Homo sapiens: one gene and its partners. The protein of the gene in region 1 purifies or fractionates together with the protein of each later gene. This does not show direct contact. Each region holds a gene or a part of one and is shown on either strand. Other genes may lie near its edges. The genes, in order: OR6M1, RHBDD1 and HERC3.

The links.
Region 2: the proteins of OR6M1 (region 1) and RHBDD1 purify together in Homo sapiens (affinity purification with mass spectrometry; one large-scale study listed by BioGRID and IntAct). This does not show direct contact.
Region 3: the proteins of OR6M1 (region 1) and HERC3 purify together in Homo sapiens (affinity purification with mass spectrometry; one large-scale study listed by BioGRID and IntAct). This does not show direct contact.

Annotation. Positions count from the first base shown.
Region 1 is NC_000011.10:123,804,831-123,807,891, forward strand, and holds OR6M1 (olfactory receptor 6M1), read right to left. Parts: upstream 1,520-3,061; coding exon 578-1,519; downstream 1-577.
Region 2 is NC_000002.12:226,859,927-226,863,585, forward strand, and holds part of RHBDD1 (rhomboid-related protein 4), read left to right. Parts: intron 1-3,659. UniProt on the Homo sapiens protein: Intramembrane-cleaving serine protease that cleaves single transmembrane or multi-pass membrane proteins in the hydrophobic plane of the membrane, luminal loops and juxtamembrane regions.
Region 3 is NC_000004.12:88,665,373-88,669,031, forward strand, and holds part of HERC3 (probable E3 ubiquitin-protein ligase HERC3), read left to right. Parts: intron 1-2,004; coding exon 2,005-2,116; intron 2,117-2,519; coding exon 2,520-2,709; intron 2,710-3,659. UniProt on the Homo sapiens protein: E3 ubiquitin-protein ligase which accepts ubiquitin from an E2 ubiquitin-conjugating enzyme in the form of a thioester and then directly transfers the ubiquitin to targeted substrates.

The DNA of each region.
Region 1 (3,061 bases):
ATGGTATTTAAAAACAAAAACAAAAACAAAACAAAACAACAGAAAAGCGAGGTCTCACTCTGCCACCCAGGATGGAGTGTAGTGGTGCAATCACAGCTCATTGCAGCCTCAACTTCCAGGGCTCAATGAATCCTCCAATCTTGGCCTTCCAAAATGTTGGGATTACAGGTGTGAGCCACTGCACCCAGCCTCCCTTCGTGGTATATGCAAGATACTTCATGGATTGAATTTTCTCCCAGACATGATCAGAGTTTTCCTTCAGTTTGGCATGATCATTGCTCATCCTGGGGCACCATCTCAGTTTCTGGCACACCAAACACCACCATAGTCGTGCAGAAAGAATGTGTTGAAGATAAGAAATGTGTGCCATTGGGGGAGGGCTGGGGGTTGGGGAGAGCATTAGGAAAAAGAACTAATGCATGCTGGGCTTAGTACATGGGTGATGGATTGATAGGTGCAGCAAACCACCATGGCACACGTTTAACTATGTAACAAACCTGCACATCCTGCACATGTACCCTGGAACTTAAAAAAAATAATAAAAAAAGAAATGTATTTAATGTAGTGTATACCAGTGTCAAGTTTTCCTTTGTATCAAGGTCATGATTCTGTTCACTGTCTCTCTCAACACTTCCTGTACCTTCTCATTCCTCAAGCTGTAGATAAAAGGGTTCAGGAGAGGGGTCACCACTGTGATGAGGACAGCGGCCACCTTGTCATAATCCAGTGAGGAGTTCTGATTGGGTCTCACATACACAAAGATGTTGCTCCCGTGGGCAATGGAGACAACAGTGATGTGAGAAGCACAGGTAGAAAAAGCTTTCTGACGGCCCTGGGTGGAGGGGATACGCAGGATGGTAGAAATTATGTACACGTAGGACCCAGTAGTGAATGCCAGGGAGCTCAGGATGACAAGGGCAGAGAGGAGAAAGTTTATCTTCTCAATGAGGTGAGTATTTATACAGGCCACCTGAAGAAGAGGGGCAATGTCACAGAAGAAATGATTAATTTCTTTCCTACAGTAAGGTAGCCTTGTCACTACAATGGTTGGAAACAACACAGACAGGAAGGCTCCCACCCAGCATCCCAGAACCAGCAGAAGGCAGGCCCTGCTGTTCATGATGACCGTGTAGTGCAGTGGGTCGCAGATAGCCATGTAGCGGTCAAAGGACATCACCGCCAAGAGGATAAACTCCACCGTCCCCAGAAAGAAGTAGAAATATGTTTGGATCATGCAACCAGCAAAAGATATGGTTTTCTCTTCTCCTAGGAGGCAGGCCAACAACTTTGGGGTAATGACAGTGGTGTATAAGATATCCAGAAAGGACAAATTACTGAGGAAGAAGTACATTGGAGTTTGCAGGCGATGATCAATCCATATCAGGGAGATGATGGTGATGTTTCCTGTTGCTGTTAATGTGTAAGTTACCACAAGAACCACGAAGAGAGATATTCGAATCTCCAGGAGAGCTGGGAAGGCAATTAGGGTGATTTCAGTCACAGTGCTCCAGTTTCCCATGACAACTACTATATGGTGGGCAGGGTTTCCCTGAAGAAACAAGAAAAGGAAAATCAGCTTAGGTAATTTTGTAAATATCTGCTGAGAATGTATTGCGGAGAGTGGCTTATATTGGGAGATGTAGACCTGGTATGTAGTCCTCTATCTGCAAGTTAATTATTGTGCCACACTGGGAAAGTCAAGATACTATTTAGGTACATGGTTTTTTTTTGTTTGTTTGTTTGTTTTTCCTGTAAAATGACGGAATAAGGCTGGATAAAAAAAACTCAACTTCCTTCTAGTTATAAAATTCTATTCCTTTTCATTGATGAAATTTCTAATCTTTTCTATTCTTTTGGCTTCATTTTCTCAGCTAAAAATGTGCTAATGTACTGATGTATACTTAATCAGAATGCCCTTCTATTATTCTGGTTTACAGTTCCTGAGTGGCAAATCCTTTAGAAACGTAAAGTCTTTTCTATAACAAACTTTCTTTCACTTTGGTGGTTGTCATTTAATAAAGGTTGATTTAGTTTTTTCTACATTTGTAGATATCCAGAGTCTCCGAATTCTTAACATCTTTCCCTAGCATGTATAGATCTGTGAAAACTGTCCAGAGATTATTAAAAGGAACAACAGCTGACGGTTCCTATTAATCATTTTAGATGACACCTCAAAAAGAAATAATGAGTGTCTCGCCCTTAGATTATGCTTTTGTGTCTAAAACCTACCTTCTACAAGTTCTGTGCAGTATCTAATATGTATCATATATCTGGCTGATCATTTGAGAGCACCGTATATAGTGTGATAACATCAGAGAGGCACAAATTATATACAGGAAGGCAACATAGAGGTAATTCACCTCACTTCATTTACTTTGTCAGCCGACATTGTGAAACTGTACTTCAAGATCATCTAGTTTGTTCTTTGTCCCACAATGTGAGAAATGATTATTTTGCAGAGACCTCCCCATTTTAGGTAAAAACCAGCCCATGCTTTAACTCTGACCTTGGTGCTTTATTTATCTAGATATCACTTAGCACCTCCTTAATAAATCCTTAATAGATAAGTTAGCATCTCCTCCACTCTTTGCTACTGATCGTGGCCACCTCTTTTTCTTTTTCCAAACTCCCCCTGCACTTTCCTCCAAGATAAAAAATTTACCCTCTTATTTTATTTTTCTTTTTATTATACAAGAAAGACATTTTTAGTGCAAAGAATTAAAAAATGCAAGTGCAGAAAAGAAAATTATAATCTGTAATCGAACTTCTTAGAGATACAGTGACCTTTTGGTGTATATAGTTTTAGGCTATTTTAAAGTTCAAAGTACATACTTGTGTATCTAAAATAAATCATACTAGGAGACTATTTTGTAATTAGCTTTTTTCCTTTTCCTTTCTTTCTCTTTTCTTTCTTTCTTCCTTTTTCTTAAAACAATTTAGCATCTTTCCATGTCAACTCCTAGAAGTCTTCACAATCATTTTTGAGAATTGTATAGTGTTTGATTCTATCAGTGGGACTGTGATATATTTAGCCAGTTGCTTAATGCTGAAAATTTAGATG
Region 2 (3,659 bases), on another chromosome or scaffold:
TTGGATTTTATGGTAATCAGGCAAGCTGTGATGGTGACCCAGACTAGAGTAGTAGCCCTAGAGCTAGAAAGAAGTAGATTGATAAAAAAAAACTGTTTGGAAGAATTAATAAAACTTGATGGATAGGATTTGGGGGTAGCAGGGTGATAAGGTTAAGGTCAAAAGACATGTCAAGGATCTTTCTATGTCTTTGGCTTGAACAACTGGATAGATGGAAATCCCATGTCTTGAGGTGGGGTGCATGAGAGGAGGAGCTGATTTGGAAGGGACAGTCCAGTGTTCAGCTTGGGGCATGTTGAGTCTGGTGGGGAGGGTGTGTTTGTAAGGTAAGGGAGCACAGGGACTGGCCTTTCTTGAACTCTGGTAACTGGCTTGTGGTCTGGATACAAGTTAGAATAATACATAAACCATTTCCAAAACCCAACAGATTTTACAGGTTTTCAGTTCACAGATAAGTTGCTATAATTGATGTTGCCTCTGTGGTCTTTCAGATAGCACAGCACTCTAAAAATTTCTATGTATTTGATGGGCATGACATTAACAATATTCATTTTATAGTCAGTGCTCACTTATTGTGATCTGTCTTCCTTGGTGTTCCTAGAGCCGTGCCTCCCTGGCCCACAGCGTCAGGTTACAGATTTGATCTTTACATGGATCAGTTGGATTTTCTAAGTTGTCTTGTGACAGGTTGCATCCCTCACCTTGGATGGCTGACTTGGTAACTGATTAGGAAGGAAACTGCCCTAGAGTTGTTATGAACTAGGACTGATTGGTCTTTGCTACTACTTAAGACTCAAAACGTATGTTCTACCTACACTGGGACTCTAATGGCCTTTGTTTACAAAGGTGGAGCCCAAAAGACGGGCACTTCTCACATTGGCTATGGTTATATCTCCTTTCGCATTAAGTATACATTTACTGAGAAGCCAAGCCACACAATTTTACTTCTCTTTTGATTTCCTGTGGACAATATTTTTATTTCCTTCAACAAATAGAAGTAGGCCATTTAGAGGCTGGGAATATAAGTGTTTTGTTATTTGCTGTACCTCCAGTGCCTGGCACAGGGACTGGCATGCATATGGCACTTGATACATGTTTATTAAATACATGAGTGAAAGAAGGAATGGCTGAATCATCATTCTGTGAGAAAGGATAATTCAGTTTTCAGAAACCAAGACATCAGGCAAACTATATCTTCTTCTAAGATTACGTCCCTGAAACCTGAGAAATCAAAGCTGAAAAATAGAAATTTGGGCATCATCCTGATAAAAAGAATTACAAAAATCATTAAAGTGGAAGCCCTTGAGTGTGTGCAGGAGAGAGTAGGGATAGAGGAGAAGTGAACAGCAGAGAAACGGGTTGGAAGGAGGAGTGAAGCCTCAGGAGAGCAAGGTGTCCCACAGAAGCAGGAGCAGTCAACAGTGGAGAGCTGGGAGGTGCGAAGGGATGCAGACAGAAAGACACCTTTTCATCCAGCCAGAAGTAACTCAGGAAAGTGCAATCAGAGCCTGGGACACAGTGTGAAGTAAGACTGGGAATTCTGTCCTTTTATCTATATTCTTCATTACTAATGATTGTAATTGAGGGGCAAGTTTTTCTTGAGCAAAGATGTAGTTAGTTTTGATTTTCTGCTACATAAAGCCCAGCATCATAAGACACTGTTGGCAATGATATTGAAGGGTTTATTTTGTGATTTCTTGTAAGCTGATTATTTACTGATCAATGATCAAGGCCAGTTTTTCCATTGTTCCTGTTAAAGGTAATAATGTTTGATATATGTAACATAAATATTTCTGTGTGTGTGTGTGGGCACACGTGTGCACACATATTGATAAATTTAGGAGAATTACAAAAAAGTTACGGTAGGTAAAGAGTTGAAAGTTGACTTGAGTTCTAATGTGAAAAATATAGGCCATTTATCCAAAGTTATGTGGGAGCATTTCAGTTTAAATTTCATTAAATTCTCTAGTTCATAAGAATGCTACAGAGCTACAATAATAACAATATAGAAACGGGTTGTGCTAATACATGGGGTTTTGCCAATAATGTGTGTGTGCATGCACGTGTATGTATATGGCTAATTTTGTGTGTGTATGCATACACATATATATATACACATGCATAATTTTTTTCTGAACATTGTTTTGGTGTGATGTTGATAATAAGAATCCATATGGGGGCATAGGAGTACATTTGAGTCTTTTTAGGATGTTACCATTTGCAAAGGAATTAATTCTCACATAAGTAAGTTTACTTTATAGAAATGAAAGTAGTAGCTACTGTTTATTCTGCATCTCTTTTGTTCCAAGCATGTCACAGTAATCCTGGGAAGGAGGTTTTATGTTTCTTAAAGGGAGGAAATTGAAGTTCAGAAAGTTTAAATGATTTGCCCCAGGTCACAGAGCTAGAAGATAGGAGAATCCTGCCTTTTTTTTTTTTTTTTTTAACTCTAAAACTCATGCATTGTCCAGTGTGCAGTCCAAGTTAGAATCCTTAGGGTATTAGAGTGAGTTACCTGTTTGGTTGGGGGCCAATTAATCTCCACAGAGAAAGCAGAAACCATTAGATGAGAACTTTTTCAACATTTTGCCCCTAATAGCTACACCTGATTTTTCTTTTCTTTCTGTTAAGAGGAAAAGACTCTTCCCTCCAAGCACTTGATCCTTTTTATTTATCTCTTGCATCTTTAGTCTGTGTCTCTGCCTGCATCTCTTCCCTTACTAGCTTCTTCTCATGAGCATGAAACAGTCCCTCCCTGGCTTAGTCCGTTTAGGGTTGCTATAAATACCTGAGTCTGAGTAATTTATAAAGAAAAGAGGTCTATTTAGCTCACAGTTCTACTGGCTGTAAAGTTCAAGATTGAGCATCTGGTGGGGGCCTCAGGCCATTTCCATTTGCGGTGAAAGGTGAAGGGGAGCTAGCATGTGCAGAGATCATGTGATGAGAGAGGAAGCAAGGGAGTGGGGAGGTGCCAGTCTCTTTTAACAACCAGCACTGGCAGGAACTAATAAGAGTGAGAACTCACTCATCCCCTGACCCCAGGGAGGGCATTCATCTTTTCATGAGGGATATTCCCCCATGACCCAAACACCTCCCATTAGGCTCTACTTCCAATACTGGGGATCGGATTTCAACATGAGGCCGGGCCTAGTGGCTCATGCCTGTAATCCCAGCACTTTGGGAGGCTGAGGCAGACGGATCACCTGAGGTCAGGAGTTTGAGACCAGCCTGACCAACACGGTGACACCTAGTCTCTACTAAAAATAGCCAGGCATGGTGACACATGCCTGTAATCCCAGCTACTCAGGAGGCTGAGGCATAAGAATCATTTGCACCCAGGAGGTGGAGGTGGCAGTGAGCCAAGATCATGCCATTGCACTCCAGCCTGGGCTACAGAGTGAGATTCTGGCTCTAAATAAATAAATACATTCATTCATTCATTCAACATGAGGTTTTGGAGGGACAAACACCTAAACCACAGCACTCGCGAAAGGCAATACCTTCTGTATTAGTTAGTAGTTGTTGCATAACAAACCACTCCAAAGCTCAGTGAAGTAAACCAAGTACCATTTATTTAGCTCACTGTTTTGTGGGTCAGCAAATTAGGCTGGGCTCAGCGAGACTCACTTGTATACCTGTGGTCAGCTAGACAGCTTCAC
Region 3 (3,659 bases), on another chromosome or scaffold:
GGGCTGCTGGTGTAAGTATTGGAGTGCAAAGACCACAGAACCTGGAGTTCTGATGTACAAGGGCAGGAGAAGAAGGATGTCCTAGTTCCAGAAGAGAGAAATAATTTGTCTTTGCTCTGCCTTTTTGTTCTGGGCTTTCAGCTGACTGGGCGGTGCCTACCCACACTGAATGAGGATGGATTTTCTTTACTTAGTCACTAATTCAAATGCCAATCTCTTACAGAAAACTGACCCAGACATACCCAGAAATAATACTTTACCAGCTATCTGGGTATTCCTTAATCTAGTCATGTTGACTCCTAAATTCAACCATCACCACCCCCTCCCCACAAATGAGTCCCTAACTGGGTTGCAGGAGGTCACTTCAGAAACTCTCTTTGGTTACATTTAGAGATTATAAAGTCATTTACTTTTATAATTAAGGCAGCTGGGATGAGCTCACACAATTCATTTCATATTTAGTAATTAGTTTTTTCCTCTAGGGAAAGATATTCTGGATTATGCTGATGTTGGCCTTCCAGAACAGGGGTTCTCAACCAGGGTGATTTTGCTCCCCAAAGGACATTTGGCAATTTCTGGTAACATTTTTGGTTGGTACAATGGGGAGGGACTTGCTATTGGCATCCAGTGGGTAGAACCCAGCGATGCTGCTAAACATCCTTCATTCCCACCTGCCCAGCAAAGAATCCTCTGGTCCCAAAAGTCAATAGTACCAAGGTTGAGAAACCCCGTTCTAGATGGATAGCTTTCATGACATTTGGGAAGGGCTCTTGGCCAGACTTGTTAGGTTGTTCATCCTTAGTATCACAGATTTCGTATAGAGTTGTGGGGAAAGCCTTTTATTTTTTTTCAAACTGACATCTGTGTATTTCAGAAAGTCTACTCCTGTAGCGTACATAGGATGCATCTCAGGAAACCAATCAAAATGAAGACCAGATTTACAAAGCAATAAATACGTATAGATAAAACATTTTGTTTTTGTTTTCTCAACAGCATAGCAAAAAGCATATGGAAAATTACATATGGGAAACCAGAATTCATTTCTATATTTTGGGCAGATTTATTTTAAAAACAATAACAACAACAACGAAAGACCCAAAAAACAAAGTACAAGCAATTTATCTTCATTTGAGCATAGGGTTCCGATACATATAATTATGATTTTTAAAAAATGTTAGAAACTCTTATGTTTTCAAAAATTATAACATTGCTGTCAGAGTGTATTAAAATCATCTGAATGTGTCCATTACTCAAAAACAGAAGCCTGCTTTGCAAATAGATAGCTCTTTTGTAAATTAACAAATGTGGTATGTTCAAGAGCAGGATATATGAGATATTCTCTAAGTCTCAAAAATGCTAAGATTTTATTTAAGGTTAAAAAAATGATTTAGTTGCTAGAAAGTTAAAAATAGTGGCAATGAAATTAGTCCTTGGGTGAATGTAATTGTATCCTTTGTGTTAACGATGAGAGACATTAACTTTGCATTTACTATAGATCATTTTTATTTTAAATACTTTGGTAAGAAAGGCTTTCAACAAGGAAGTTCTACTGTCATTTGTTGATGAGTGGACCAGTTTGCACAGGGGACGTTATTTGTACCAAGCCACAGCATCTACATCTAGTTCAATGAGCCACAAAAACAGAAAAAAACCAAAAAACACAAGATGAAATCAGGGAAATAATTATTTGTTTATAAACTTCAAGATAGCCTTAACTTGATATGACAGTCCTTGTACTTTGACTTGAAGGAAAACAGATTTAAAAATTTGAAAATTCTTGTAAAAGGAATTCCAGTGTGGTTTATTCTTTGTGAAAGAATAATATTCTGTATTTTGGGTTTATTATTTTGAGATTTATGCAAAGTGTAGTATTTTTGTGGATCTTATCTGCCAGATCAAATTTAAATCTGATTACTAAGAACACAGTATTTTACTTGTTTATAATTCCTATCAGAGTGTTTGCTTTTTCTTTTATTATATACCTTTTTGATTTTGTTTGTTTAGAATTGATGAACATTTTAAAACGAGTCCCAAAATCCCTGGGATTGACCTGAACTCAACTAGGGTGTTATTTGAGAAGTTAATGAACTCTCAGCACTCCATGATTCTAGAACAGGTATGTTTCTATATTTGTAAAGTGCATTCTTAAAAATGCATTTTTGTATCGATGAATTCAACTTCAAGAGAAAAAGAGTAAGATGAAAAAGTGAAAGTCTCCAAATCTTAATTTTGTAAAGTATTTACTCTGGGAATTAGACCTACCTTTTGCTTTCTTTTGGCTTAAACCTTTCCAAGGCAATGCCCCTCTAGAATATACAGTTTGCACTGGCAGGGATCTTTGGCTTTTCTTTTCATGGATGTGTACTGAGGGCCTAGACCAGTGTCAGGCTCATAGTAGGTTCTCAGTGCATAGTGAATGAATGAGAGTTGAGAGTCTATCAAATAGCTTATGAACTTAGAGAAAGTTAACTAGATCTCAAGTATGTTTGAATTTCTCATTACTCTTTTCCCTCATACAGATTTTGAACAGTTTTGAAAGTTGTCTGATTCCCCAGTTGTCAAGCTCACCACCAGATGTTGAAGCCATGAGAATCTATTTAATACTACCTGAGTTTCCCCTACTCCAGGATTCCAAGTATTATATAACATTGACTATTCCCTTGGCTATGGCCATTCTTCGGCTGGATACAAACCCCAGCAAAGTACTAGGTGAATTTGCTAACCTCGATATCAGTGGTTTTATGGTCATTTGTTTTGTTGGTGTGACTCCTGGCTCTCAGTGGATTGAGATCCAAGAATCTATTTGTTGCCATTTAATATCCTTAACACTTAAAACCTTTTTTTCTTTGCTGTTAATTTTTAGCTAACCCTATTTTCAAGTTGAAAATAAAACCATTATTTAGATTATTTGAAATGACTCATGCCAGAATAATCTTGATTTTATAGTATTCACAAACCTAATTTATTTAACTTGAAACTATTTTTTTCTACCACATTTGCTCAGTACCTCAGTATTACTGTACGTTGGTCTTTCTCCTATGTCTAATTTAGGGGGTGGGAGTGAAGTGAACAGTTTCGGTGATACAGAGGTCTCCAAAACAGGAGAGGAAGAAAATGACCTAGTGTGGACTTACCAAATGTTTGTTTTGTTTTTCTTTTTTAGGACCGTTGAGTCCACACTGATTTTTGCAGGCTCCGGACACTTTGCTGAGATAAAAACCTTCCATTCCTCAGTGATTTGGAGAGTGTCTTTCATGGGAGTAGCACCTGAAATGTTTTTATTACTCAAGTGCAGGAAGTCTATCACCTGGCTTTTTACTTTTTTCCCCCCTGGTAAATTTTGTTAGGTGTCATTGCAGCTCAGTAACTTCTGTGTTCCAGATGGACTGGGATGTTACTTGAGTGTGGTCTCGCCGTGAATAAAGAGATTGTGTTCCTGAAGGTGGAATACTGGCTTTTCTATATTGCCTCCACCTTTGTAGAAGAGATAAAAACAGAAATAATAATGAAAGCACTAGTAAATGTTAGTACTTAATTTTTTTTAAGATCAAAAGCCTTTTGGGGGCACATTTTCTCAGGTGTTCTAGTTGATGTGAAACAGAGAGGTGGCAATATCAGAAGAAATCTTACCTGACTTTCAAGTTTTAGAGTTTTTTCAT